7 linked regions of the Homo sapiens genome follow. The protein of the gene in region 1 purifies or fractionates together with the protein of each later gene. This does not show direct contact. Each region holds a gene or a part of one and is shown in the gene's direction. Other genes may lie near its edges. The genes, in order: SIRT4, SUCLA2, IBA57, HSPD1, STOML2, DAP3 and ACOT9.

Region 1 (4,008 bases):
CGTCTCAAAAAGAAAAAAAAAAAAGAAAGTTGAGCAAGCTAGGGTGATTTTCTTTTATTTTCTTTTGTGTTTGTGTGTGCACGTGTGTGTGTGTGTGTGTGTGTGTGTATGACAGGCTTTCACTCTGTCACACAGACTGGGATGTGGTGGTGTGATTATAGCTCACTTCAGCCTCAATCTCTTGGGCTCAAGTGATCCTTTCACCCCAGCCTCCTAAGTAGCTGGGACTACAGGCAAACGCCACCGTGCCCAGCTAATTTTTAATTTAATTTTTATTTTTTGTAGAGACGAAGTCTTACTATGTTGCCCAGGCTGGTCTCGAACTCCTGGGCTCATGTGATCCTCCTGCCTTGGCATCTCAAAGTGCTGGGATGACTAGTGTGAGCCACTGTGCTTGGCCTTGAAGCTAGGGTATTTATTCACCATCTCTCATCCCTCATGGGTCCAGGATCACTCTAGGGGAATTAATTCCCTAACATTTTGACTCTGCTCCTCCCAAGGAGGCTTCCGTGGGCAGAGAACATCTGAGGCAAGAGAGACACAGGAAACTGCTTGTAAGAAAATTGTGTAGGCTGGGCGCGGCGGCTCACGCCTGTAATCCCAACACTTTGGGAGGCTGAGGCAGGCGGATCACGAGGTCAGTTGATCGAGACCATCCTGGCTAACATGGTGAAACCCCGTCTCTACTAAAAATACAAAAAATTAGCTGGGCGCGGTGGCGGACGCCTGTAGTCCCAGCTACTCGGGAGGCTGAGGCAGGAGAATGGCGTGAACCTGGGAGGTGGAGCTTGTGGTGAGCCGAGATCGCGCCACTGCACTCCAGCCTGGGTGACAGAGCGAGACTCCGTCTCAAAAAAAAAAAAAAAAGAAAGAAAGAAAATTGTGTCCACCAGGGTGCTGTGGTTCATATCTGTCATCCCAGCAACTCAGGAGGCTGAAGCAGGAGGATTACTTGAGGCCAGGAGATCAAGACCTGCCTGGGTAACACAGCCAGACTCCGTCTCTACAAAAAATTTTTTTAAGAAAGGAAATTGGCTGGGCACGGTGGCTCGCGCCTGTAATCCCAGCACTTTGGGAGGCTGAGTTGGGCGGATCACCTGAGGTCAGGAGTTCGAGACCAGCCTGACCAACATGGAGAAACCCTGTCTCTACTAAAAATACAAAATTAGCTGGGCGTGGTGGTGCATGCCTGTAATCCTAGCGACTCGGGAGGCTTAGACAGGAGAATAGCTTGAACCCAAGAGGCGGAGGTTGCGGTGAGCCGAGATTGTGCCATTGTACTCCAGCCTGCAGCCTGGGCAACAAGAACAAAACTCCGTCAAAAAAAAAAACAAACAAAAAAACAGAGAAAGGAAACTGGGACGGGTGCGGTGGCTCATGCTTGTAATCCCAGCACTTTGGGAGGCAGAGGCAGGCAGATCACTTGAGGTCAGGAGTTCGAGACCATCCTGGCCCACACGGTGAAACCCCATCTCTACTAAAAATACAAAAAATTACCTGGGCATAGTGGCGCACGCCTGTAGTCTCAGCTATTTGGGAGGCTGAGGCACGAGAGTCGCCTGAACCTGGGAGGCAGAGGTTGCAGTGAGCCAAGATTGTGCCACTGCACTCCAGCCTGGACAACAGAGTGAGACTCTATCTCAATAAAAAAACAAAAAGAAAGGAAACTGTTCGAACGTGGCCTTTAGCATGTTCTGAGGAAAATATGAGCTGAACACCAATAGCATGTGCTATAAACTGCTGGGTTTCCAATGCCTAGGATGGCTAGATACATAGACCATAACGTAGCCGGGCAGTAGTCAGAACTCAATCAATAATGAGGGAACAGATACATGGGAGGGTATCATGCTTATGGGTCTGGCAATAATTGTAGCTAATTGGAGACTTATTTCTTTAAGCCCTAGAGAGGCTCCTCTGAGGGCTGAAGTCAGTCTGCCAATGCTGAAATATTTACTGGGTGCCTAGAATGTATGGTGTACATACGTTACACTATGTAGTACATTATAACACTAACTACTGTGCTTCTTAGTGGTCAGAACCAAAGTATAGGCTGGGCTCAGTGGCTCACACCTATAATCCCAGCATTTTGAGAGGCTGAGGGGGCGGATCACTTGAGCTCAGGAGTTTGAGACCAGCCTGGCCAATATGTCGAAACCCAGTCTCTACTAAAAATAAAAGATTGGCCAGGCGTGGTGGCGGGCGCCTATAGTCCCAGCTACTCGGGAGGCTGAGGCAGGAGAATTGCATGAACATGGGTGGCAGAGGTTGCAGTGAGCCAAGATCGTGCCATTGCACTCCAGCCTGGGCGACAGAGGGAGATTGTCTCAAACAACAAACAAAAACCAAAGTATAAAACATGGCCCACTTTATATGCAAGAACTTTGTAATATTTGGGAAGACACAAAAATAACATAATTGGCCGGGCACGGTGGCTCACGCCTGTAATCCGAGCACTTTGGGAGGCCGAGGCAGGGGATCACCTGAGGTCAGGAGTTCAAGACCAGCCTGACCAACACAGTGAAACCCTGTCTCTACTAAAAATACAAAATTAGCCAGGCATGGTGGTGCATGCCTATAATCCCAGCTACTCAGGAGGCTGAGACAGGAGAATCATTTGAACCCGGGAGGCAGAGGTTGTAATGAGCTGAAATCGCACCATTGCACTCCAGCCTGGGCAACAAGAACGAAACTCCTTCTCAAAAAACAACCAAGCAAACAAACAAAGAAAAGCACATAATTAATGATAAATGACAACGCATGATTGTGAAATTGTGTGGTTCTTGATTTATATGCTGTGCATGTTCAAATAAACAGATTTAGTAAAGATTGGAATAATCAGTTGAGAAAGCTTTTTAAAAAAAAAATTTTTTTTTTTAAATAGAGACAGGATCTTGCTGTGTTGCCTAGTCTGGTCTCGAACTCCTAAGCTCAAGCCCTCCTCCTGCCTTGATCTTCCAAAGTGTTGGGATTACAGGTGTGAGCCACCATGCCTGGCCCAAGAAAGCTTTTTTTTTTTTTTTTTTTTTGAAACACAGTCTTGTTCTTGTTGCCCAGGCTGGAGTGCAGTGGCACGGTCTCGGCTCACTGCAACCTCCGCCTCCTGGGTTCAAGTGATTCTCCTGCCTCAGCCTCCCAAGTAGTTGGGATTACAGGTGCCTGCCACCACCCCCAGCTAATTTTTTGTATTTGTAGTAGAGGTAGGGTTTCATCATGTTGGCCAGGCTGGTCTCGAACTCACTCCTGACCTCGTGATCCGCCTGCCTCGGCCTCCCAAAGCGCTGGGATTACAGGCGTGAGCCACAGCGCCTGCCCCAAGAAAGCTTTTATGGGTACAGGGGGCTTGAGATTGGCTCAGGTTTGTCTAGGCAAGAGCGGGAAACAGGGCTTTCCAAATGAAGGGAAGTTGTAGATCCCAGAGGAGTCTGGCCTGGCCTCTGTAGAGGTTTGGACCTGGGACTTGCAGAAACCAGATTGTCTGGGAAAGTTAGGCCCAAATCATGGTTACATTTGAAAATCAGGCAGTGCAGTTGGGTCTGCTGTGAGACACCAAAGGGGTTTATTAGTGGTTTCTGAGCAAGCAAGCAACATGATAAAAATAGCATTTGAGGAAGGCTAAACAGGATTAAAAAGAGCAGGTCAGGGAGGTCAGCCTGAAAGACCTAGACTAAGGTGGTATCCAGGGAATTTGAGTTAATGATGCTTATGGATTCATTAAAACAATTTTTTCCGCCGGGCGTGGTGGCTCATGCCTGTCATCTCAGCACTTTGGGATGCCGAAGCGGGTGGATAACCTGAGGTCGGGAGTCAAGACCAGCCTGACCAACATGGAGAAACCCTGTCACTACTAAAAGTACAAGAACAACAAAAAATTAGCCGGGCATGGTGGCACATGCCTGTAATCCCAGCTACTCGGGAGGCTGAGGCAGGAGAATCGCTTGAACCTGGGAGGCGGAGGTTGCGGTGAGCCAAGACTGTTGTGCCATTGCCCTCCAGCCTGGGCGACAAGAG
Region 2 (4,446 bases), on another chromosome or scaffold:
TGTCATCCCAGCACTTTGGGAGACTGAGGCAGGAGGATCGCTTGAACCCACGAGTTGGAGACCAGCCTGGGCAACATAGAGAGATTCTGTCCCTAAAAAAATAAAATAAAAAAATCAACCAAGCCTGGTGACACACATCTGTGGTCCCAAACTACTCCAGAGGCTGAGGTGGGAGGATCCCTTGAGCATGGGAGGTTGAGGCTGCAGTGAGCTGTGATCGCGTCACTGCACTCCAGCCTGGGTGACAGACCAAGACCCTGTCAATCAGTCAATCAATCAATCAATAGCTTCCCTGGAGACTCCAGCCTGCCACCAGCTTTGGTAACTAGTGGCCGACTGTCAGGCCTCTGAGCCCAAGCCTGCACGTGTACATCCAGATGGCCTGAAGCAAGTGAAGAATCACAAAAGAAGGGAAATTGGCCGGTTCCTGCCTTAACTGATGACATTCCACCATTGTGATTTGTTCCTGCCCCACCTTAACTGAGTGATTAACCTTGTGAAATTCCTTCTCCTGGCTCAGAACCTCCCCCACTGAGCACCTTGTGACCCCCGCCCCTGCCCGTAAGAGAAAAACCCCCTTTGTAATTTTCCGCTACCCATCCAAATCCTATAAAACAGCCCCACCCCTATCTCCCTTTGCTGACTCTCTTTTCGGACTCAGCCCGCCTGCACCCAGTTAAAATAAACAGCCTTATTGCTCACACCCTGTTTGGCGGTGTCTTCACACGGATGCGCGTGACACCGATCTCTTTGAGCATCAGAAGCGCATGACACCGACCATCTTCTCTTTGAGCATCACAAGCGCGTTACACCGACCATCTTCTCTTTGAGCATCACAAATGGTTTTATTCATTGCTGTAGGCCAAGGGCTCAAGGCTGTTTAGCACGAAGTAGACACTGGGTAATCATTTCTTGAATGAAACACATTTTACAGATGAGGCAACTGAGGCTGAGAGAAGTTAAGATCACCCAAGTGGCGGCGCTGGTCACCTTTACATTGCAATTCACTAGGAAGTGTTCAGGTTGCTCTGACCGCAGGGCAGATATTGGGGCTGCGGTGCCCAGTTCCAAAGGTCAAAGCTTGCTCCGCGCCCGCCAGGGAGCTGGTCTAGCGGCTGCAGTGTTAACCCGAGGCCCCGCCCCCAACGGGTGGCGCGAGGCGGGGCGTAGGTGAGCGCTGCAGAGAGGCTGCGCCTTGGGCCGCCTGTCGCCTGTGCGCCTGCGCGCGGCGCCGAGGGGACGGGGTCCGACTCAGAAATGGCGGCCTCCATGTTCTACGGCAGGCTAGTGGCCGTGGCCACCCTTCGGAACCACCGGCCTCGGACGGCCCAGCGGGCTGCTGCTCAGGTAATGCCTTCCAGTCCGCTGTCGTCTCGAGGGTCGGCAGGAGAAAGGGTGAGGTGTGAGGGGTCCCGTGGCCCGGCTCGGGGTCACTTCGCCGGCAGTGACATTTTCTGGGTGCCCTGCAAGGCCCTCGGGCGACTTGCCTGGGAGTGCTGCTCGCCAGGACTACGAGCGAGCCCATGTTTGCGCGGCTCTGACCCAGCCCTTAGTCCGCGAGGATCCCCGGCGGCCCGGCCGTGGCTGCTCCTGCAGTTTCTAAGAGATGGGCGGGAGCAGGTGGGCTCTGAGTGGAGGTGAGGGGGTCAGGACATTTTCTGCTGCCATTCCGGCGTCTGGCACGGTGGGCTGAGACTTGCGCCGCCCCTTTTTGGGCAGGGGGGAATGCCCTTCAAAAGTACTTTTGTGTTTCTTGGGAGCTGTCATAGGTGGGAATGTCAGAGGACCAGCGGTGCTTACTGACTTGCCTTTTGTGGGGCAAGGTAGGGAAGTTTCCCCTCTCCTCCAAGTAGTTGTATACTGTTCTACTTGTTAATAGCAGTAATAAGATTATGTTTTCTACCTAACCAGTTGGAGAGGTAAGAAAATAATCTTTTGTATAGCCTTATTTCTGGATAGGCTATAGCATAATAGTTACTGGCCTTGTTTTGAATATTTGATGTGTGCCAGGTAATGTGCTAAGCGCTTTACGTGTAGTTTCTCAGGTTTTTCAGCAACTGTGAGGAAGTCATTCAACACCTGCATCATTGTTGAACATATTATGGTTAAGAGAACAAGTAATTTGGACTAGGTCATATAGGAGGTAAGATCAAAGCTGAGATTTAATCCCAGAGGTGTCTGGTTCTAAAGCCGTGTACTTGAGTTGGCTCCACAACTTCGAAAACAAACATCTTCCTTCCAACTTTGACAACAAAAAACTGTGGAAGGGCATTATTGGTGTCCTAAGTCAATTCCAGAGTTTTGGGTTTTTTTCTGAAGTAACTCTTCATACATGTCATAGTATGAATTGATTTAGGGCCCTCCCGCCCCTACCTTTTTTTTTTTTTTTCATTTTTATTGAAGTTGTTCATACTTTCAGCCTAGGGGTAGTGAGTTCTGTGAGTTTGCTTCCCGATAGAAGTGACTTTTTGACCTTGAACTTCCTTCTTATGAATCTTAGAAGAGTGCTATTTAGTTTTTAGAAAATGGGGAATTTAGTGACAAATACGTTTTCATTCTAGTCAAAATCTTTATCTTTTTGGAAGTTCATTTAAAAGCCTTCATTTCTCCTTATGGAAATTTCCAATATTATTTTCTTTATAACAGTTGCTGTCTTCTACCCTGGTATTAAGAAATGCAGCTCTAGAGTTTGGAAGGACCTTAGTCCAACCCTTTGCTTTTGTAGATGAGGACATAGAAGTACGGAGTCTTAAGAAACTCGTTCAAGGTCACACATTTAATTTAGCAATTTGTTTTCCACATTTTTTTTTTTTTTTCCTTGAGACGGAGTCTTGCTCTGTCGCCCAGGCTGGAGTGCAGTGGCGCGATCTTGGCTCACTGCAAGCTCCGCCTCCCGGGTTCATGCCATTCTCCTGCCTCAGCCTCCCTAGTAGCTGGGACTGCAGGCGCCTGCCACCACGTCCGGCTAATTTTTTGTATTTTTAGTAAAGACGGGGTTTCACCGTGTTAGCCAGGACGGTCTCGATCTCCTGACCTCGTGATCCTCCCGCCTCGGCCTCCTAAAGTGCTGGGATTACAAGCTTGAGCCACCGCACCCGGCCTGTTTTAAACATTTGTTTAAGTTCTCTGACCCTCCTCCAATTTCTTGGTATCTTTAGCCTAGTGTACCTTCGTTGAAAATAGATATTTCAGCATATGTCTTTAAGAATAAGGACATTCTTCCAAATAACCGCAGTGATCATACTTAGGAATTCAACATTGCTGTAACATGAATATATATAGTTTAGATTCAGATTTTTCTAGTTGTCCCCAAAGTGTTCTTTATAGACATTAGATTTTTTAAAAATTTAAACTGGGATGAGACCTTGTGACATTTTCTCTGACCAACTAACCAATTAGGTGCCACCTAGTGACTTATGTGCTAGTGACCTAGTGCTCTTATATGTGTTGCAGTTGTTTATTTACATGCCTGTGAACTCTGTGGCTGGGACCCAAGTGTCTTTATTTTTTTAGTGTCCCTAGCCCACTGTCTAGTTCATAGTCATCACAAAAAATATTTGAGTGTATGACTTTTTGCCAGGCTTATGCTAGTTACTCCCCTACCCACTAATTTTTATTATTATTTTGACGTATAATTTATGTACAGTAAGATGTACAGCTTAAGTGGATAGCTAGATTAATTTTTATGTATGTATTCACCTGTGTAACCATCGTCTGCATCAAGATATACAATGTTTCCAGCCCTCAGAAGGCTCTCATGTCCTCTCTCTTATCAATACTCCCTGACAGAAGGTAGCAACCAATTATGACTTCTGTCACCATAGGCTAATTTTGACTGGTTTTGAACGCTATAAAAATAAATCATGTAAGTATATATTCTTGTTTCTGGCTTCTTTCTCTCTACATTATGTTTGTGAGATTAATCCATCGATGTGTGAGCCATAGTACTTTTTTTCTTTTTATTTCTCTGTAGTATACTATTATATACATATACCACAGTTTATCCATTCTCCTGTTGATGGGCAATCAGCTAATTTCTGTTTTCTGTCTGTTATAAATAAGCCTGCTCTGGACACTCTAGACATTTTTATGTGTGCCTTTTGACAGATGTAAGGACTAATTTCTATTGATACATACCCAGGAATGGGATTTCTGAGTCAGAAGGTGGAGGTATACTAAACAGTAGTTTGAGAGGTTGCTGGGTTTTTTTTTCTTTTTTTTTTTTTTTTTAACTTATTTATTTGTTTTTTTAGACAGGGTCTTGCTCTGTTGACCAAGCTGGAGGACAGTGGTGAAATCACAGCTCACTGCAGTCTCAAACTCCTGAGCTGAAGGGATCCTCCTGCCTCAGTCTCAGGAGTAGCTGGGATTATAGGTGTAAGCCACTGTGCCCAGCTTGGTTGCTGGCTTTTAATATTGAAGTGACACTAAATCAAGGAATTGAGC
Region 3 (3,985 bases), on another chromosome or scaffold:
TGGGAGAGCCTCTGCTAGACCTTTCCTGGCACTTCCCCAGGAAAGGCAAGGCAGGGCAGATGTGCGGCTGGCCAGCTGGAGTGATTTCCATGGGCTCCAAGCTGTAGGAGTGGTCCCTGGCTGCCAGAGTGCTCTGGCCAGATAGAGGTGGGCTCTGGACTGGTGAGGCTGCATTGCGGAGGCGCGCACACCCAGCTGGGCCCTTATCTGTAAGGACTGGCTGGCCTGGGAGGGGCAGTCTCCCAGCCAGAAGGTGGAATTTTTTTTTTTTTTTGAGATACCAAAACATCCTAAGGTACAGGAAAGAAATTGTCAACACACACACACAGTACCATAAACAAGGCCCAGCAGAAAGGCAGACAGAAGCACACACACCAATGTTCTGATCTTAGAGTAAGCAGACACATCACATGGAATGAGGATGTTTAATATATTTAAAGAAAACAATTTATGCACAGGAAGCAAGAGACTATAAAAATGACCAAGCAGATTTTAAAAAGAGAACTTGTTGAAATAAAAATAAAATACTCTAAAAAATATTCCATGATGTGTTTCCTGAAGAATCGGGAACTGTTTGAAGAAATGACCCAAAGTGCAGCACAGAAAGACAGAGCTGGAAAATATGAGATGGGATGAGACAAGAAGATGGAGAGTTTAGTATGACATCCGCAATTTACGAGTAATTCCAGAAGGAGGGGAAAGAGAATATGGGGTGGAGGCAAGTATTCAGAGAAATACGGCTGAGAACTTTCCCAAACCAACAGGAGCCCCTGCTCCTTAGGTTCAGGAACCAGCAGCTCCCAAGCAGCATAGTTAAAAAGCTCTACCCAAACAGTCACGTCTTGGTGAAAGTACAGAATCTCATGACAAAGAGATCTTAAGGCAGAAAAGAAAGAGATTATCTGGAAAGAAGAAAATAAGTAGTTGATTAAAAGCAACAGTGGAAGCCAGAAAGATAGTAAATAATATCTTCAAAGTCCTGGGAGAAAATAGTGATAGCCTAGAATTGTGTACCCAGAAAATCCGTCTTTCAAGAATGAGGGGCCAGGCGCAGTGGCTCACGTCTGTATTCCCAGCACTTTGGGAGGCCAAGGCAGGTGGATCACCTGAGGTCAGGAGTTCAAGACCAGCCTGATCAACATGGTGAAACCCTGTCTCTACTAAAAATATAAAAATTAGCTGGGTGTGGTGGCATATTCCTGTAATCCCAGCTACTCGGGAGGCTGAGGCAGGAGAATCACTTGAACCCAGGAGGCAGAGGTTGCAGTGAGCCAAGATTGTGCCATTGCACTCCAGCCTGGGCAATAGAATGAGACTCTGTCTCAAAAAAAAAAAAAAAAAAAAAAAAAAAAAGAGGGCTAAACGCATTTTCATACCACGAAACTGCCCTCACTCCGGAGTTTGCTGCCAGCAGAGCCTAGAGCGTCTAAGGCATGTCTGGGCTTCTGGCGAGGGATCCTGTGGGGAAGCTGGAGATGGAAGAAGGAGTGAATAGGCAGGAAGGTGGATTTGTGGGCATGTCTAAAACACCACATCTAGAAGCTTCTACTTAGAATGCCTACTTTTGGAGTTTATAAAAAAGATGCCACATGTTGAGTTGGGAGAGAGGTGCCCAAACCTACAGTGTTCTAAAGTCCCCCTACTGGTCGGAAGGAGGGCACGGACACTGACTTCAGCATCTGTTACAAGGCTTATCAGAGTTTTCAGATAATCTCTAAAAGAATGGAAATATATCTTCCAAACTATAGAGGGAAGACCATGGAATTTAAAAGCCAGTCCTTCAAGGAGAAATGAACAAACTCAAAATCGTAGTTGGGAGTGTTTTTTTTTTTTTTGAGACAGAGTCTCACTCTTGCCCAGGCTGGAGTGGAGTGGCATAAACACAGCTCACTACAGCCTCAACCTTCTGGGCTCAGATGATTCTCCTGCCTCAGCCTCCTGAGTAGCAGGAACTACAGGTGTGAGTCATCACACTCAGCTAATTTTTTTTTTTTTTTTTTACTTTTTGTAGAGATGGGGTTCTCACTGCATTGCCCAGGCTGGTCTTGAATTTCTGGGCTCAGGTGATCTTCCCACCTCAGCCTCCTGAGTAGCTGGGACCACAGGTGCATGCTAATTTTTAAAATTTTTTGTTTTTAAATGCTGGTCTTCAACTCTTGTCCCCAAGTAGCTGGGATTGGGGCATGAGGCACTGTGCTAACTTCATGTTGAAATTGAATTGCCATTCTAACAGTGTTAAGAGATGGGGCCTGTAAGAGGTGATTAGGCTGTGAGGGCTCCACTCTCCAAGGGCGGAGTTAATGTTATGAAAGGGTAAGTCCAGCCCGCTTGTGCCTCTCTTGCCCTCCAGTGTTCAAAGCACCATCTTGGAGGTGGAATTCCCAAGTCGGCCAGTTCCTGGATCTTGGACTGTCCGGTCTCCAGAACCGTGAGCCAATAAACCTCTGTTCCTTGTAAATGAGTCAGCCTCAGGTATTCTCTTGTAGCAGCACAAATGGAGGCAGACACTTCCTTCACCAATCTCATGGGAGGCCCACTCCTGTGAGCTGCCTCTAGTTCCCCAGGCCACAGACTCCATCAGGGCTCACCTGGAGCCGTCCCTGTCTCACCTGGAAGCTCTCCCACTCCTCTGGCCAGCCTGGGCATCTCCACCCAATATGAGTGATGGCGACTGATTCCCTTACTTTAGCAAGCTGGGAATAAGGAATGTTTGCCTGTTCTTATTCAGGGGTCTCTGCATCTCCACACTTGCACAGGTTGTGTGTACATACATTTTCCTGTCTTTCTGGTAAGCCCCTGGGGTGGAGCTCTGGGCCACAGGGCAGGAAAACTCAGTGTTGCTAGGAACTGCCAGACATTTTCCCGGAGTGAGTGCAGCATTTACATTCCCACCAGAAGTGTGCCAGGTTCTTGTCATACTGCGTCCTCGCCAGCGCTTGGTGCTGTCAGTCTTCTTAGTTTCCATTTAGAGATTCAGTGTTTAAATTTTGAACGTCTTGGGTGAACACCTTGGTTTGAGAAAAGTAAGAAAAAGGGTCTGTCTGGCTATGGGCCATGGAGACCCAGGGCAGTGCTCCACGTGCCAACCCTGGGGCAGGGAGCCCAAGCTAGGACTGTGACTGTCTGGGCTGTGGGCATCTGACCATCTCCAGTGTCCCCGTCTTTGATTTCCCTGGCGATGGTGCTAGCTTAGTTTGTGCGCATCGGCATTTGTGGGAGAAATGAAGGATTAATACATTTTGTTTTATGTCAGACTCTCTCAGTGAGAAGTTCTCAGGGACAATAATAGCAGGGGGTCCTGCTGAAGAAAAACTGGGAGATGGCTGAGCTCTGGTCCATCTTTCATTGATTCATTCATTTCTTCATTCATTCAACCATGTATTGAATGCTTATAGCCAATGAAAATAAAGTACACAGTATATTTTATTGCTACGGGCTCTATGGTGAAAAATGAAGCAGGAAAGCGGGACAGGGTGTGTGTGGTGGGGACGGGGTGTGTATGGTGGGGACGGGGTGTGTGGTGGGGGGACGGGAAGTGTGTGGTGGGGACGAGGTGTGTGGTGGGGACGGGGTGTGTGTGGTGGGGACGGGGTGTGTGCGGTGGGGATGGGGTGTGCGGTGGGGACGGGGTGTGTGTGGTGGGGAGATGGGGTGTGTGTGGTGGGGACGAGGTGTGCGGTGGGGACGGGGTGTGTGTGGTGGGGAGATGAGGTGTGTGCGCTGGGGACGGGGTGTGTGCGGTGGGGACGGGGTGTGTGTGCTGGGGACGGGGTGTGTGCGGTGGGGACGGGGTGTGTGCGGTGGGGACGGGGTGTGTGCGGTGGGGACGGGGTGTGTGCGGTGGGGACGGGGTGTGTGTGGGGGGATGGGGTGTGTGGGGGAGGACGGGGTTTGTATGGTGGGGACGGGGTGTGTGGTGGGTGGGGTGTTTGTGGTGGAGACAGGGATGGGGCGTGTGAGGGCACTGGAGGTGTGGATAGCAGTT
Region 4 (4,008 bases), on another chromosome or scaffold:
TGCCTGCTTTGGCCTCCTGAAGTTTTTAAAATATACTTTCTAATATGTGTCAAACTATAGGTATTAGTTGGTGTCATCCTCTAAAAAATAAATGTATATATTCCAAAAGTTAATGCATATGAGAAATGAAGGAGGAAAACCAACTCACTGGTGAATTTTAAAGTGTATTGGAACCTTGGTTTCGCTTTTCATTTAAATGTATTGCAGTCATTTTTTGTATATTTTTGAAATCTTCATTATTTTTACAGGTCAGAAATGTGAATTCCAGGATGCCTATGTTCTGTTGAGTGAAAAGAAAATTTCTAGTATCCAGTCCATTGTACCTGCTCTTGAAATTGCCAATGCTCACCGTAAGCCTTTGGTCATAATCGCTGAAGATGTTGATGGAGAAGCTCTAAGTACACTCGTCTTGAATAGGTAATAAGCAGTGGTATTTGTTGATTTATATTTCTCGGTGAAAGACAGAATTATTTGTATTGCTGTTTGCAGTTTCCATCATGTGTACCTCCACATTTGATCCAGTTGGGTTTGTATCTAGAATTGTAATTGTGTAAATCAGGTGTGCTCTAATGTATCCTTATGGTTGTGTTTTTGAAGGAACCCCAAAGTCTTTACTATTTTGATCAGCTTTCTCATAGAATAGACTAATTTAGCACATGGGTACCTTTCTGTATTTTGCAAGTGTTTACAGTTGTTTTGAAGGCACATGACTGAATCTTGTATTTTTTTTTTTTGAGACAGAGTCTCACTCCCTGGCCCAGGCTGGAGTGCAGTGGCATAATCTTGGCTCACTGCAATCTCCATCTCCTAGGTTCAAACAGTTCTGCCTCAGCCTCCCAAGCAGCTGGGACTACAGGTGCGTGCCACCACACCTGACTAATTTTTGTATTTTTAGTAGAGACAGGGTTTCACCATATTGGCCAGGCTGGTCTCAAACTCCTGACCTCGTGATCCGCCCGCCTCAGCCTCCCAAAGTGCTGGGATTACAGGTGTGAGCCACTGCGCCCGGCCTTGTAATTTTTTTATTTTTTATTTTTATTTTTGGAGACAGAGTCTCTGTCACCCAGGCTGGAGTGCAGTAGTGCAGTGGCTCAATCTCAGCTCAAGCCTCCGGGGTTCAAGTGTCAATCTTGTTTTTTGTTTTGTTTTGTTTTGTTTTTTTAAGGTTTTTCTGGTTAAAAATATGTAAATTTTCAGAATATTATTTTGCATAGAACAGGGAAGTAAACAACTAACTTCCAAATAACTCAGAGCCAGGCATGGTGGCTCACAGCTATAATCCCAGCACTTGGGGAGGCACAGGCGGGTGGATCACCTGAGATCAGGAGTTCCAGACCAGCCTGGCCAACATAGTGAAACCCCGTCTCTACTAAAAATATAAAAATTAGCAGAGCATGGTGGCGTGTGCCTGTAATCCCAGCTACTCAGAGGCTGAGGCAGGAGAATCACTTGAATCTGGGAGGCGGAAGTTGCAGTGATCCGAGATTGTGCTGCTGCACCCCAGCCTGGGCAACAAAGCGAGACTCTGTCTCTAAATAAATAACTCAGATGTAAGTGTATTTCACCATCGAATATTTTTATTTATTTTGAGAGACAGACTCTGTCACCCAGGCTGGCCTGCGGCGGCACGATCATAGCTCACTGCAGCCTTGAACTCTTGGGGTCAAGCAATCCTCCTGCCTCAGCCTCCCAAGTAGCTGGGACTACACACTTGCACAAGCACACTTGGCTGATCTTTTAATTTTTTTGTAGAGACGAGGTCTCAATATGTTGCCTCAATATGTTGCCTAGGCTAGTCTTAAACTGTTGGTGAATCTTAAGTGATTCTCCCACCTCAGCCTCCCAAAGTGCTGGGATTACAGGCATGAGCCACTACCCTTGGCTGTGATCAAGTATTTAGTCTGTTGTTAAATGTTTACTAAATAGTCTGAAGTAGAGAAAATAGCACCCAATCTAAAATAAGGTGAGGTCTAGTCACTTATTTAAATCTACATTTTAAGCTATAGTTTACTATTAGTTTAAACTTTAAGACAGGTAATGTTCATGCTGCAGACAATCTAAGGGCATTATTAAAATGTTTGTTCTTCCTTATCTCAGAATTGAAGTATGTCAGAAGCAAGACTTTTCTTTCCATTTTGTTATAGTAGAAATGCATACATTAACAGGTACGTTTTAGACATTACACGTGCTCATCTGACCCAAAAGCTCTAATGAGCTGCCTTACCCTGGAATGTTTTTCTTAGCTTGGATTTGCTTTTTTGGAGGGATTAAGAAAAGACTTGGCTGGGCGTGGTGACTCATGCCTGTAATCCCAGCAGTTTGGGAAGCCGAGGCGGGTGGATCATGAGGTCAGGAGATGGAGACCATCCTGGCTAATACGGTGAAACCCCGTCTCTACTAAAAATACAAAAAATTAGCTGGGCGTGGTGGCGGGCTGAGGCAGGAGAATGGCGTAAACCCAGGAGGCGGAGGTTGCAGTGAGCCGAGATCTCGCCACTGCACTCCAGCCTGGGCGACAGAGCAAGACTCTGTCTCAAAAAAAAAAAAAAACACACAAAAAAAAGACTTGAGGCCAGAAAAAAACAAGCCTACAGAGTTTTCATTAAGCCATTTTACTGCTAGTTGAAAAGTGGGATATCCAGTTTACATAGCATATAGCTTATTCCTCTGATTTTTATTTGGGTCCTTAATAAAATAGACCAGCTGTCTTGAAGTTTGAACGTTGCTTCTGTTTCACAATCTGCTCTCAAATGGACATTTGATTACACATTCCAAGTATTCATTTACCTGGTAAAAATTTCAGGTGAGCTTAACAATACTGTCAGCTTTTTGTATAACATTTATAAAAGAAGTGAATTCAGAACATTGCTCATTCAAAACTCAGCATTAATATATGGAGATGTTTATTAAATGACCCTCAAATGTAATATTTAGTAATTACTGTTTTTCTACCATTCATAATAGTTATCACTGTATCCTATAACTTACTGTGATGTGATTTTTGCTGCTCGGCCTCCTGAGTAGTGGGGATTACAGGTGCCTGCTACCACATTTGGCTGATTTTTGTTATTTTCAGTAGAGACAGGGTTTCACCATCTTGGCCAGGCTGGTCTCGAACTCCTGACCTCGTGATCCACCTGCCTGGGCCTTGCAAAGTGCCGGGATTACAGGCCTGAGTCACCACGCCCGGCCAGGCCAACAGTTTATTAAGAAGGTAAACGGATATGGACAAGTATAATTAATAGAAAATAGCCTAAACTGTCTCAGATACTTCCTGTCTTAATTTGATCAAAAATTGCTAGGAAGCAAAAAAAAAACAAAAAAACACAAAAACCAAACCAGATTACTTAGGGAGTCCTAAGTAATCTAGTAACAGCTTGAGGGGAATTAAACAGATAGGCATTTTTATTTCATTTAAATCTTACTATCAACTATTCTTAACAGGCTAAAGGTTGGTCTTCAGGTTGTGGCAGTCAAGGCTCCAGGGTTTGGTGACAATAGAAAGAACCAGCTTAAAGATATGGCTATTGCTACTGGTGGTGCAGTAAGTAAAATAAATGTGATAATGGTTTGCTGAATGTTTATACTTGTCTGGAATTTATAGATAGTTTAACATTTCACAATTAGATACTACAACTATCTGTTTCTTTTGGCTCTTTGGAAGGTAGGGGTTGGATTAAATTCCCGTTAATTTGCCACAAGTCTGGCCTAAGAATGAGCTTACTGACTATTCTATATTGACTAAATCTTATTGACTGAATAAGGGGGTTTCCTTTTTTTTGTTTTTTTTGGAGACAGTGTCTTGATCTGTCTTGACTATTCTTGACTTGATCTATATTGACTATTCTTATTGACTTAAATCTGTGGGGTTTCTTTTTTTTTTTGAGACAGGGTGTCTTGATCTGTCACCCAGGCTGGAATGCAGTGGCACGATCTTGGCTTACTGCAACCTCCACCTTCTGGGTTCAAGCAATCCTCCCGTCTCAGCCTCCCAAGTAGCTGGGACTA
Region 5 (4,731 bases), on another chromosome or scaffold:
CAGCGTTGCCTCCCTGTCCTGGGCAGGGGCCACTTGTTATTTTATTTATTTTTAATTTATAATTTATTCAAATTGGATTGCCTTGGTAACCTCCCACACCTGATAATTGGCATCACTCCTCCCCGCTTCCCACTCTCAGATATTGCTCCAACCTCAGGAGTTGAAGAGGCTTATGCGGTGGGGGCAGGAGGAGAACTGCTTTCCCTCAGCTGAGGGAAGAGGGGCTATTCCAGAGGGACTGAGTCAGTAGCCAAAGACTCAGCTTCCCCTGTCCTTCCCCAGTCCCTTCACTTCCCCTACCCTCTGACCTATCTCTGAAAGCCAAGTTATGCGTATGTGTGTGTGCACAAGCTTGTCTTTGTGTGGTATGTGTGTGTGAGTGTGCATGTATGCACACACACAGGGGTTAACCACCCCTCACCTAGGGCTCCAGACTCCAGTTGTCCCTCTCCTCCTACCTGTGTCTCCTTGTTTTGGGGTCCTGACTGAAGAAGGTGTCCAGGGGGCAGAGTCAGGGCCAAGCACTGGGGTGCCTCCTCTCACCTGGCCAGACTCTGACCCACCTACCTCAGCTGGGGTGAGGGGCACCCCTCAAACTCAGTCATGTGGTTCCAAACTACCCCATTCCCCACTCCAGACTCTGACCCAGCCTCAGTCCTAACTCCTGGGGCTGGGCTGAGGGGAACAAGCATTTGCTGAAACTTGAAAAAACAAAGCAAATCAAAAACAGGAAAAAATTGTACCTGGTACTTTTTTTTAGAAAAAAAGATTAAAAAAGAAAGAATAAATTCTTGTTTGGAAACTTGAACTAAGCTCTACTTTTGTTGTTGTTGTTGTTGTTGGGGAGAGGGTGTGAAGGGGGATGGAGGGCCTTCCTGGAGCTGGGACTCAGCCCTTTCTACCAGAGAGGCAACAGGCCTGGGCCCATGAGGTCTTAGGCTAGTCCCTGCTGATTCCTGGGGCCTGGTTTTTCTCCTTTCGGAGGGGTTGGTGGGTAAAGTTCAGCCGTAGAAGCTGAACTCTGAATTGTAGATCAGGATTCTAATACTGGTTCTATTAATGACTTTAGCCCCTCAGAACTTCAGTGCCCTCATATGTAAAATGGAGGTGACTACGGAGGTCTCTTGACTACCAGAGCATTAGGGATGTGGGCAAGGTGACATGCTCCAGACAAGGTTGAACGTTGAGGCTGTTTGCTGGACTGTATTTAAGACCGGGCATAACAAACCTTGCTTGGGAAGACAGGGAAGGAGCTGCAGTGTCTTTGAGGAAAGAGGGGAGGGGAAAATCTCGGCCCAATCGCCAGGCAATATTAGGCCCAGTTTCCATGGCAACGGGATTGGGGTCAGTCCCCAGTGGGAGTCCTGGGCACAACACAGCGGGACTACCAGAGAATATCACTATGGCAACCATGGCAACGAGTCAGCTCCAATCCACTAGTCGCTATGGTGACAGATGGGGGCGATACTACGCTCTGGTGGGCAAACTGAGTCTCGGGTGAGGACGAATAATTCAGTGCGTGGTGTCTGAGTGATAATGCCCGCGAAAAATAGCCTCCATTTTGGCCATCAGGCCGGGGATCTTCGGCGTGAACAGCTAAACCCAGAACAACCACAGCCTTCGCCCTTCTCTAGAAGGTCTGCGTTTCCCAGGGAACAACTTGACGCGCCGTTCGACCAAGTAACGCTGATTGGGTGAGTGTTGAAGCGGGGGAGGGAGCTGCCGGAAGTACATCCGGGGGAGCGGAACTGCAAGAGGAAAGGCTCGGGTAGGCTTCTGGGAGCGACCGCTCCGCTCGTCTCGTTGGTTCCGGAGGTCGCTGCGGCGGTGGGAAATGCTGGCGCGCGCGGCGCGGGGCACTGGGGCCCTTTTGCTGAGGGTGAGAGCGAGGCAACCTTTCCAGAGGGTCAGGACAGAGATTACCTGGGTTCTCCGCTGGAAAAGAGCGAAATTCCAACTTTTGGAGAGGACTGGGGTCAGAGGTCATGGTCCCCATGTGATTCTCCGAGGATCCTGAGGGTCGTGGTTTATGGAGATGCCTTCAGGACCGAGGGGCGGCGTGTCTGGCCAGATGGGATCTCTGCTCACCCTCTTCTTTCCTTCAGGGCTCTCTACTGGCTTCTGGCCGCGCTCCGCGCCGCGCCTCCTCTGGATTGCCCCGAAACACCGTGGTACTGTTCGTGCCGCAGCAGGAGGCCTGGGTGGTGGAGCGAATGGGCCGATTCCACCGGATCCTGGAGCCTGTGAGAAACCTCTTCTGCCCACCCTGGGCCAGCCAGATGACCAATCCCTCACGACATGCAATGTCGGGAGGACTTCCTTTGGGCCTGCCCGCACTGTTAGCTCCCGACTCTGTAGGCCAGACCTGACAGGGCCCAGGCTGCTGACCATCATCCCCATGTTACCACCTTTTCCTATGCATCTCACAGGCCCCATTCTTGGGAATCTCCCCTGCCCACTCTCAGCCCTACCTCTCAGTCTGCATAGAGATGGCTATTCTGCTGGCTCCGATTCTCATGACTCTCCCCTCCATTCAGGGGCCTAGTCTTGCATTCCTGTTCTCTTGGGTTTTCTTACCAGTGACACCTCAGCCTTCTGAGGACTTATTTCTTGGTAGGAGCTGCTGCTTTTCTGGGCATGTTCCATGTGTTGACTCCCTACATACTCCAGGACTAGCTTAGGTCCCAACCCAATAGTTCCCAGCCTTCTGAGGACCCATGACTCCTCTTTCCAGGGTTTGAACATCCTCATCCCTGTGTTAGACCGGATCCGATATGTGCAGAGTCTCAAGGAAATTGTCATCAACGTGCCTGAGCAGTCGGCTGTGACTCTCGGTGAGGGGTTCAGGGTGACATGGGTGCTCTGAGGCTATTAGGATGTGGTTGCTGTAGATCCAGAGCTTAGTAGAAAGAACTGGTTGGGACCTAGAGGCCTGACTTTCCCCGTTTTCTCTCCTGGTTCTACAGACAATGTAACTCTGCAAATCGATGGAGTCCTTTACCTGCGCATCATGGACCCTTACAAGGTACCTGTCCCCTACTTTATCCAGCCTTTTGAGTTGCCCTCTTCACTAAAATCTTGTGCCCAAGCTTCTTACACTATCCGTGTCCATCTCAGGCAAGCTACGGTGTGGAGGACCCTGAGTATGCCGTCACCCAGCTAGCTCAAACAACCATGAGATCAGAGCTCGGCAAACTCTCTCTGGACAAAGTCTTCCGGGTAAGCAGATCTGAGCCAGAGTTAGGGTTTGAAGACACAAACCTGACACTCTTAATCTTTTCTGAAGGTCAAGATCAGTCCCAGGCCCTTCTCAGTGTAGGCCCTTGATAGGTAGGTTGAGGCTGTGGGGCTTACACCTCTTTTTCCAGGAACGGGAGTCCCTGAATGCCAGCATTGTGGATGCCATCAACCAAGCTGCTGACTGCTGGGGTATCCGCTGCCTCCGTTATGAGATCAAGGATATCCATGTGCCACCCCGGGTGAAAGAGTCTATGCAGATGCAGGTGGGGGCCAAGGAGGGGTGGGAAAAGGGCCTCAGGGTGCTCCAGTACCAGGAGGATCCAGACTTCCCTCCTGTTATGATGGGTAGAGTTGCATGTCTGTATCAGTCTCCCTTGGCTTGTTGATTGGGATTGTTGTGGGCTTCCAGGTGGAGGCAGAGCGGCGGAAACGGGCCACAGTTCTAGAGTCTGAGGGGACCCGAGAGTCGGCCATCAATGTGGCAGAAGGGAAGAAACAGGCCCAGATCCTGGCCTCCGAAGCAGAAAAGGCTGAACAGATAAATCAGGCAGCAGGTCAGGAGAGGGTAGAGGCTGAGGGAGGAGCAAGGCATGGGCCTTTGAAGATTGGTGCTGGGGCAGGATCTTTGGGGTACTTTGACTTCATGGGTCAAGCAAGCTCTGTCCCTTCTCTTGCAGGAGAGGCCAGTGCAGTTCTGGCGAAGGCCAAGGCTAAAGCTGAAGCTATTCGAATCCTGGCTGCAGCTCTGACACAACATGTGAGAGGCCCCTGGGTGGGAATGGGGACAGGAATTGACAGTGGAAGGGGTTCTCTTATCTACGCTTGAGGAGAGTTCCGCCTCTGTGGGCTCTGTTGAGCCAGATTACATGGTCCTTTTTATTGTGAACTGCTTTCTTCATTCCCCATCCCCCCCTTCTTCTCCGTATCGGTGATCTCTGATTTTTATCCCCCTGTGATCACAGAATGGAGATGCAGCAGCTTCACTGACTGTGGCCGAGCAGTATGTCAGCGCGTTCTCCAAACTGGCCAAGGACTCCAACACTATCCTACTGCCCTCCAACCCTGGCGATGTCACCAGCATGGTGGCTCAGGTTAGAGCTCTCTGAGGACCCAGCATAGAGCACTGGTGCCAGGGACCAAACTGAGACCCCACCACCGTCATCAACACTTACATACCATAAAGGTCTTCAGAGTGCCTTGGCCCTAGACCTCCCTTCATTCTTTGTAGAGATGGAATCTAAGAATGAAACATCTCCACTCAGTCCTGCAAATATGGAAGTTCTTGAGATACCTTTTTTTGGTAGATACTTGTGCTGGTATTCTGAGAGTCACTTTACTCTGATGGTTTGCAAGATTCCTAAAATCAACTCCAGAGCTTACAAGACAGGTTTGAGAGAGGGAGAAAGGAAAACCAACTTACTGGCCCCCATGCCATCTTTTCCCGTTTAGCCATTGGTAGGCTGGGCTGCACCTCTGTCAAGTGTCCTCATG
Region 6 (4,008 bases), on another chromosome or scaffold:
CATATATGTATATATACACACATATATTCATATATATTTATATATACATATATTCATATGTTTTCATAATATACGAATATACCTATATGTTCATATATGTATATATAATATTCATATATGTATATATGTATATATAATATTCATATATGTATATATGTATATATACGTATATATGCACACATACATATTCGTATATGCATATGCACACATACATATTCGTATATATATGTGAAGATAAACAGCAAGGCCTGGTGTGATGGCTGATAAATCCCAGCACTTTTAGGAGGCCAAGAGGTGATTTGCTTGAGTCCAGGAGTTTGGAGTTTGAGGTCAGCCTGGGCAGCACAGTGAAACCCTGTCCCTACAAAAAATATAAAAAACTAGCTGGGCATGGTGGTTTGCACCTGTATGTAGCTCCAGCTACTTGGAAGGCTAAGATGGGAGGATGGCTTGAGCCCAAGAGGCAGAGCCCGCAATGAGTGGAGATCGTGCCACTGCATTCCAGGCTGGGCAACAGAATGAGACTCTGTCTCAAAAAAATAAAAAAAAAGAAAAGATAAACAGTAAAATGGAATCAGAGGAGGAGGTAATGCCAAGAGTTCCACTATTCATTGAAAACTAAGGGAGTATGTTGTGGAAAGAGAATGACAGCAGAAGCTATGTTTTCTTTCTTAATTTTTATCTGTCTTTTGATTCTTTTTTCAAAATGAGTCTAGATGGTCTAAGCAGAGGAGATCAGAAGCATCAAAATGGGGCTGGTTTGGGGCAGTGGGTGTTTTTCTCAGTGACTGTTAATCTCCAGAAGCATGGCAGTTCTAGGGCCAGAGGCTACGTGGCTTATCCTAGAGGGAGTACCTTCAGGTATACAATTATGTCTTAGTTGAGGGTTTTAAAAAAATTGTTGTCACCAGGTGCAGTGGCTCATGCTTGTAATCCCAGCACTTTGGTAGGCCGAGGTGGGTGGATCACAAGGTCAGGAGTTTGAGACCGTCCTGGCTAACACGGGGAAACCCTGTCTCTACTAAAAATACAAAAAAATTAGGCTCTGGTGGCGCGCGCCTATAGTCCCAGCTACTCAGGAGGCTGAGGCAGGAGAATCGCTTGAACCCAGGAGGTGGAGGTTGCAGTGAGCCCAAATCGCGCCACTGCACTCCAGCCTGGGCGACAGAGCGAGACTCTGTCAAAAAAAAAAAAAAATTGTTGTCAATTGTTTCGGGAGAACATCTAGGAAAGGCACGTGATGATCTCTTCTCTCTTTCTGTCCGATATGCAGATTGCCCCCGAGGAATTAGCACTTGTTCACAACTTGAGGAAAATGATGAAAAATGATTGGGTAAGTGCATATGATACCTCACACATTTCAGAAAGAAATGTATTATCATTTTAAACATGTTCTACTATTTCATTGCTAATACTTTACAGTCTCTAATTTTATGGACAGTAAGTTATTATGTCTTATTTAATTCCTGTATCTGTACCAAGTTAGAAATAAAGTCTGAATTAAAATCTATATATATGTGGTTTATAATCTTTCCAAAGTAAGTTTATTCAAAACCATTTTATTTAAATATTGGCCTAATTTTATTTTGCTTGCAGACATTTAAAGTGTTTTTGTATCTCCTTACCGTCTTTGGAAAAGAGTTTGAGACCCACAAATATGTCATGGTAAATTTAAAATCAGGTAGCAGTTTATTGTCAGAGCCAAATCTGGAATAACCAATTTAGTTGCCATTTAACTGTGCTAGACCACACTTTTGTAACACTGTATGCCCAAGAAAGAAAAAAAAAATCTACAGATGATTAATGCAGTTTTCCATCCTTTTTAACTTTTTCCAGTTCAGCCTTTTCTCTTTTCTTTCAGCATGGAGGCGCCATTGTGTCGGCTTTGAGCCAGACTGGGTCTCTCTTTAAGCCCCGGAAAGCCTATCTGCCCCAGGAGTTGCTGGGAAAGGTCAAGTCAAAGGAAAATTTGTTTCTACTTAGATTGTTATCCTGTTTAAAGAAAAATATTTTTATTAATCTATGTATTTTGACATAATTTCAGACTTAGAGAAAAATCATATTCCTGTATGCCCTTCCCCTGGATTCCTAAAATATTAACTTGATCATCATTGCTTTATCCGTCTCCGTCTTTCTCCAGAGTTTCTTTTCTTTTTTTTTTTTTTGAGACGGAGTCTTGCTCTGTCAACCAGGCTTGAGTGCAATGGCGCAATTTCGGCTCACTGCAACCTCCGCCTTCCGGGTTCAAGTGATTCTCCTGTCTCGGCCTCCTAAGTAGCTGGGATTACAGGCGTCCACTACCACGCCCAGCTAATTTTTTGTATTTTTAGTAGAGACGAGGTTTCACCATGTTGGCCAGGCTGGTTTCAAGCTCCTGACCTCAAGTGATCCGCCTACCTCAGCCTCCCAAAGTGCTAGGATTATAGGCGTGAGCCACGGCGCCTGGCCTTGATGCTTCTTTGTCTCCAAATAATGTCTCATTCCTAAGAACAAAGATACTCTAATATACCCTGAGCATAATTATCAAAGTCAGAAAATTGACATTGATATCATACTTTTACCTAATTGGTGGGATTTATTCTGATGTAGCCAGTTATCCCAGTATCTTTTATAGAAAAATAAATCCCAGATAATGTGTTACATTAAGTTGTCATGTCTCTGGCTGGGTGCGGTGGCTCATGCCTGTAATCCCAGCACTTTGGGAGGCCGAGGCAGGCGGATCATGAGGTCAGGAGATCGAGACCATCCTGGCTAACATGGTGAAACCCCGTCTCTACTAAAAATACAAAAAATTAGCCAGGCGTCGTGGCGCGTGGCTGTAATCCCAGCTACTCAGGAGGCCGAGGTAGGAGAATCGCTTGAACCCGGGAGGTGGAGGTTGCAGTGAGCCGAGATTGCGCCACTGCACTACAGCGTGGGTGACAGAGCGAGACTCCGTCTCAAAAAAAAGAAAAAGTTGTCATGTCTCTTTGGTCTCCTTTAATCTGTGACAGTCTGTCAGTCTTTGTCATTTGAAATCTTTATGTTTTTGGCATGTGCATGCCAGCTATTTTGTAGGTCACTTTTTGGGGTTGTCTGAGGTTTCCTCCTGAATAGAAGTGATGTTAGAAGTGATGACATGTCTGAGTGAGTGCATCCTATCAGGAGGCACATTTCTCCCATTACTGGTAATGATTTTGGAACTGTTAGCTGAGGTGTTGTCCATCTGGTTTCTCTTCAGTAAAGTTATTATTTTGCTTTGGAATTAATATGTATGTTGTAGAGATATACTTTGAGACTAGGTAAAGATCCTGTTACTTCTCAAACTTCCACCTACTGGTTTTAGTATCCATTACTTTAGTTATACCTGGCATGGAGCCTCCGCAGCTGGTATGGTCTTGTGGATTTTTATTTAATAGAATCTAAATCATTACTGTCACTTTTTATTTTGGTGCTCAAATCATCTTAGATTTGGCCATTAAAAATTCCTTCATTGGCCGGGTGTGATGGCTCACGTCTGTAATCCCAGCACTTTGGGAGGCCAAGGCGGGTGGATCACGAGGTCAGGAGTTCAAGACCAGCCTGGCCAATATGGTGAAATCCTGTCTCTACTAAAAATGTAAAAATTAGCCAGGTGTGGTGGTGCGTGCCTATAGTCCCAGTTACTCTGGAGGCTGAGGCAGAAGAATCGGTTGAACCCAGGAGGCGGAGGTTGCAGTGAACCAAGATTGTGCCATTACACTCCAGCCTGAGCCACAAAGCAAGACTCCGTCTCAAGAAAAACAAAAAACAAAAAAACAATTCCTTCATGGCCAGGCTTGGTAGCTCACAGCTGTAATCACAGCACTTTGGGAGGCCAAGGCAGAAGGATCCCTTGAGCTCAGGAGTTTGAGACCAGCCTGGGCAACAAAGTGAGACCCCATCTCTACAAAAAAAAATTTTAAAACTAGCTGGGCATGGTGGCATTCACCTGTAGTCACAGCTACTCTGGAGACTGAGGTGGGAGGATCGCTTGAGCCCGGGAGGTCA
Region 7 (4,008 bases), on another chromosome or scaffold:
AAGCTGTTATCAAAAAAAAACAGACTTACAGACATAAAAATCAAATGTAATTTTTTGTTAGGCATGACAATAGTAATGTAGTTACTTAAGAGAATATTATCCTTTTTTTTTTTTTTTTTTTAAGATGGAGTTTTGCTCTTGTTGCCCAGGCTGGAGTGCAATGGTGGGATCTCGGTTCACTGCAACCTCCGCCTCCTGGGTTTGAGCGATTCTCCTGCCTCAGCCTCCTGAGTAACTGGGATTACAGGCATGTGCCACCATGCCTGGCTAATTTTTGTATTTTTAGTAGAGATGGGGGGGTGTTTCACTATGTTGCCCAGGCTGGTCTCGAACTCCTGACCTCAAGTGATCCACCCACCTCAGCCTCCCAAAGTGTTGAGATTACAGGCGTGAGCCACCATGCCCAGCTGAGTTGTGCAATCTCTTAAATCTGTTTTAATCCAGAACAGTTGTGTCTTCCCCTATTGTTTCTTATTCACTCGTTGAGAGGCTGGATCATTTGTTCTAAATAGTGTCCCACTTTCTGGATTTGTTCTATTGCTTTCTCATGGTGGTTTGTTTGTTTGTTTTTTGATCTTGTTTCTCTATCCCTAGTAATTTCTCTAAACTGAAGTTAGATCTAAAGCCTTGTATTAGATTTAGGTTGAGCATATTTGGTGAGAGTACTACATAGATGATGTTGTATATCTCGTATTTCATATTGCATCGTATCAGGAGGTACAGGTTGTCCCACTCACAGTGATGCTAAGATTAGTGTGTGGGTTCAAGCAGTTACAGCCTAATCTCTCCTTTGTGAAGTTCAGTTTTTCCTCTTCTGATCAGCAACAATCTACAGGGGTGTACTTTGTCATCCTGCAAATAGCTGAGTTTCCCATCAGTCTTTTTCCAGTGCTTTCAATGTCCACTGCTGATCATTGCTTTAATTAGTATCATTAGGCAGTTTAGAGTAATTCTCAAATTTTGTCATTCCTTCTATGTTTGTTAGCTGGAATTCTGTAAAGAAGAGCGTTCCCTTAACAACTAGGGCGATTGGGTTTGAAATGGAGTTAGGATCAATGCTTCATTCTTGTCTTTTATTTACATGTTTTCAGAATAAGGAGTTGGTTCACTAGCTAGTGATGACATGCTTTTCCCAGTTTTTTAGCTTTTTAGAAAAGTATCATGTTTTTAAATTTCTTTTTTTTTTTCTGTGTGTGTGTGTTTTTGAGATGGAGTCTCGCTCAGTCACCCACACTGGACTGCAGTGGCGCAATCTCGGCTCACTGCAGCCTCTGTCTCCTGGGTTGAAGAGATTCTCCTGCCTCTGCCTCCCAAGTAGCTGGGACTACAGGCATGCCCCATTATGCTTGGCTAATTTGTTTTGTATTTATAGTAGAGACGGGGTTTCACCATGTTGGCCAGGCTGGCCTCGATCTCCTGACCTCAAGTGATCTGCCCACCTAGGGATTCCAAAGTGCTGAGATAACAGGCGTGAGTCATTTCGCCCAGCCCGTTTTTTTTTTGTTTTTTTATTTTTTTTGAGATGAAGTTTTGCTCTTCTCTCCAGGTTGGAGTGCATTGTCATGTGTCATGAGCATGGCTCACTGCAGCCTGGGCCTCCTGTGCTCAAGCAATCCTTCCGCCTCAGCCTCCTGAGTAGCTGGGACCACAGGCACATACCACCATGCCGAGCTAATTTTTTTTCTTTCTTTCTTTTTGAGATGGAGTTTTACTCTTGTTGCCCCGGCTGGGGTGCAGTGGCGCAATCTCGGCTCACTGCAACCTCCACCTCCTGGTTCAAGTGATTCTCTGGCCTCAGCCTCCTGAGTAGCTGCCCAGCTAATTTTTAAATTTTTTGTAGAGATGGGGTTTTGCCATGTTGGCCAAACTGATCTCAAAATCCTGGGCTCAAGTGATCCTCTCACCTCGGCCTCCCAAAGTGCTAGGATTACAGGTGTGAGCCACTGTCCTGCCAGAAAAGCATCATTATGAATTCATGGTTGTAATATATTACATGTATTTCAATAAATTGCAGCCATTGTTTCTCTTGATGCTCCAAGTGTGCCTTCTTTGGGCGGTGGGAGTTCCTCTAAGCTGGCTCCTTTCCACCTGTCTGTTTGATAGCTTCCTGCTGTCTGACACAAGATGTCTTGGGCTCATCTTACGTATTTCCTGCCCCAGGCCTGGAGTCAGCCATTTCTCCAAGTAGTCCTGGGGTTCCTTTTAGTGGGAACTGGTATTTAGACATCAAAATCTGGGCACTAGAACTGTACATTGTTACTAGTTTGTTATTGTTTCCAGGCCTTTTTAGTGGACAGAGCTAGGATATATTTTAAACAAACAAAAAACCTCATGAGAGCTGGGTGTGGTGGCTCACGCCTGTAATCCCAGCACTTTGGGAGGCCGAGGTGGGCAGATCACTTGAGCCCAGGAGTTTGAGACCAGCCTGGCCAACATGGCGAATCCCCATCTCTACTAAAAGTACAAAAAAATTAGCCAGGTATGGTAGCATGTGTCTGTAGTCCCAGACGATGTGGGAGGCTGAGGTGGGAGGATTGCTTTAACCCGGGAAGCAGAGGTTGCAGTGAGCCAAGGTCGCACCACTGCACGCCAGCCTGGGCGACAGGGCAAGACCCTACCTCAAAAAAAGAGCCTCATGAGTTTATATGGTCATTTTCAAGTCATTTAACCATATAGACTTCAACTTACTTTACGTCATCTTTTTTCTCTGAAATTGAATTCTTGGTTTCTAACAACAGTTACACCCAAACTGAGAAAAACTAATTGTGGGGGTAGAGCTGGGGTGGGAGGGATTGCTCTTTGCACAGGACAGAGTCCAGTGGCCTGTGGGAAATCTCATTTGTATTAGAAACTTGATTTAGGAGTCTGCAGTGAAAAATCTTTGCTGCTGCGTGGAAAGCTGACTTGGAAAGCCAAATTAAGATAGAAAAATATGTTGGTCCCTTAGTGATCTGAGGGAAGAATAACACCCATCTACTCTGGCCCTTCCTGCCAGCCCCAGCTGACCTGCTGTGGCCAGTGACTGGCCTGGGGCTTGTATTCAAGCACTGAGGCCACTGCTGCAAGTTTCACTCCCAGCTGATGCATGTCACTTTCCCAAGCTGTTGTTTCAATTCTTTTGTTTTTTGTTTTCAAGACAGAGGTTGGCTCTTGTCACCCAGGCTGGAGTGCAGTGGTGCTATCTCGGCTCACTGCAACCTCTACCTCCTGGGTTCAAGTGATTCTCCTGCCTCAGCCTCCTGAGTAGCTGGGATTACAGGCACCTACCACCACACCCGGCTGACTTTTGTATTTTTAGTAGAGACGGGGTTTCACCATGTTGACCAGGCTGGTCTCGAACTCCTGACCTTAGGTGATCCACCTGCCTTGGCCTCCCGAAGTGCTGGGATTACGAGCGTGAACCACTGCCCCCGGCCTGTTTTAATTCTTTTGTTTCCATTGTTGTTTCATCAAATCTTTTGATTCTACCACAGTGAAATATTATCCCTTTTCCCTTATTTTTTATTTCAAAAAATTTGATGCTTACAGAAAAGTAGATAGAATAATGCAACAAACGTATGCCTTTCACGTAAATTGTATTACATTTGCGTAATTCTCTTACCCTCTCTCTACAAATACACACATTTACATATTTTTTCCCATGAATCATTGGAAAGTAAGTTTGAGACTGCTTCACCCATTCAGGAGTTCAGCATGTATTTCCTAAGAACCAGGTATTTCTCCATAACCTCAATGCCTTTATTATATCTGAGAAATTCAACAGTGATACAGTTATTTAATATGTGATCCGTATTCAGATTTCACCAGTTGTCCCTAAAATGTCCTTTATAGCTATCTTCCTGATTCAGGACCCAATCCATCAAGGATTGTATATTGCATTTGGTTATCCTGTTTCTTTAGAATAGTCTCTCTGCCATTTGCTGTCTTTCAAAAATTGATATTTTTAAAGAGTTCAAGCCAGTTTTCTTTTTCTTTTTTTTTTTTTTTTCTTTTTTTGAGACAGAGTTT

What was found.
Region 2: the proteins of SIRT4 (region 1) and SUCLA2 purify together in Homo sapiens (co-immunoprecipitation; one large-scale study listed by IntAct). This does not show direct contact.
Region 3: the proteins of SIRT4 (region 1) and IBA57 purify together in Homo sapiens (co-immunoprecipitation; one large-scale study listed by IntAct). This does not show direct contact.
Region 4: the proteins of SIRT4 (region 1) and HSPD1 purify together in Homo sapiens (affinity purification with mass spectrometry; 4 studies listed by BioGRID and IntAct, with this or other methods). This does not show direct contact.
Region 5: the proteins of SIRT4 (region 1) and STOML2 purify together in Homo sapiens (co-immunoprecipitation; one large-scale study listed by IntAct). This does not show direct contact.
Region 6: the proteins of SIRT4 (region 1) and DAP3 purify together in Homo sapiens (co-immunoprecipitation; one large-scale study listed by IntAct). This does not show direct contact.
Region 7: the proteins of SIRT4 (region 1) and ACOT9 purify together in Homo sapiens (co-immunoprecipitation; one large-scale study listed by IntAct). This does not show direct contact.

What each region holds. Positions count from the first base shown.
Region 1 is NC_000012.12:120,305,161-120,309,168, forward strand, and holds part of SIRT4 (NAD-dependent protein lipoamidase sirtuin-4, mitochondrial), read left to right. Parts: intron 1-4,008. UniProt on the Homo sapiens protein: Acts as a NAD-dependent protein lipoamidase, biotinylase, deacetylase and ADP-ribosyl transferase. Catalyzes more efficiently removal of lipoyl- and biotinyl- than acetyl-lysine modifications.
Region 2 is NC_000013.11:47,998,081-48,002,526, reverse strand, and holds the start of SUCLA2 (succinate--CoA ligase [ADP-forming] subunit beta, mitochondrial precursor), read left to right. Parts: upstream 1-1,253; 5' UTR 1,254-1,257; coding exon 1,258-1,347; intron 1,348-4,446. UniProt on the Homo sapiens protein: ATP-specific succinyl-CoA synthetase functions in the citric acid cycle (TCA), coupling the hydrolysis of succinyl-CoA to the synthesis of ATP and thus represents the only step of substrate-level phosphorylation in the TCA.
Region 3 is NC_000001.11:228,178,832-228,182,816, forward strand, and holds the end of IBA57 (iron-sulfur cluster assembly factor IBA57, mitochondrial isoform 1 precursor), read left to right. Parts: 3' UTR 1-3,426; downstream 3,427-3,985. UniProt on the Homo sapiens protein: Mitochondrial protein involved in the maturation of mitochondrial [4Fe-4S]-proteins in the late stage of the iron-sulfur cluster assembly pathway. Operates in cooperation with ISCA2 in the maturation of [4Fe-4S] proteins.
Region 4 is NC_000002.12:197,489,733-197,493,740, reverse strand, and holds part of HSPD1 (60 kDa heat shock protein, mitochondrial), read left to right. Parts: intron 1-248; coding exon 249-417; intron 418-3,444; coding exon 3,445-3,544; intron 3,545-4,008. UniProt on the Homo sapiens protein: Chaperonin implicated in mitochondrial protein import and macromolecular assembly. Together with Hsp10, facilitates the correct folding of imported proteins.
Region 5 is NC_000009.12:35,100,198-35,104,928, reverse strand, and holds the start of STOML2 (stomatin-like protein 2, mitochondrial), read left to right. Parts: upstream 1-1,797; 5' UTR 1,798-1,834; coding exon 1,835-1,879; exon of another isoform or gene 1,880-2,105; coding exon 2,106-2,243; exon of another isoform or gene 2,244-2,734; coding exon 2,735-2,834; exon of another isoform or gene 2,835-2,966; coding exon 2,967-3,025; exon of another isoform or gene 3,026-3,117; coding exon 3,118-3,219; exon of another isoform or gene 3,220-3,368; coding exon 3,369-3,503; exon of another isoform or gene 3,504-3,649; coding exon 3,650-3,794; exon of another isoform or gene 3,795-3,917; coding exon 3,918-3,997; exon of another isoform or gene 3,998-4,202; coding exon 4,203-4,331; exon of another isoform or gene 4,332-4,731. UniProt on the Homo sapiens protein: Mitochondrial protein that probably regulates the biogenesis and the activity of mitochondria.
Region 6 is NC_000001.11:155,730,083-155,734,090, forward strand, and holds part of DAP3 (small ribosomal subunit protein mS29), read left to right. Parts: intron 1-1,273; coding exon 1,274-1,333; intron 1,334-1,861; coding exon 1,862-1,951; intron 1,952-4,008. UniProt on the Homo sapiens protein: As a component of the mitochondrial small ribosomal subunit, it plays a role in the translation of mitochondrial mRNAs. Involved in mediating interferon-gamma-induced cell death. Displays GTPase activity in vitro.
Region 7 is NC_000023.11:23,708,519-23,712,526, reverse strand, and holds part of ACOT9 (acyl-coenzyme A thioesterase 9, mitochondrial isoform a precursor), read left to right. Parts: intron 1-4,008. UniProt on the Homo sapiens protein: Mitochondrial acyl-CoA thioesterase. Catalyzes the hydrolysis of acyl-CoAs into free fatty acids and coenzyme A (CoA), regulating their respective intracellular levels. Regulates both mitochondrial lipid and amino acid metabolism.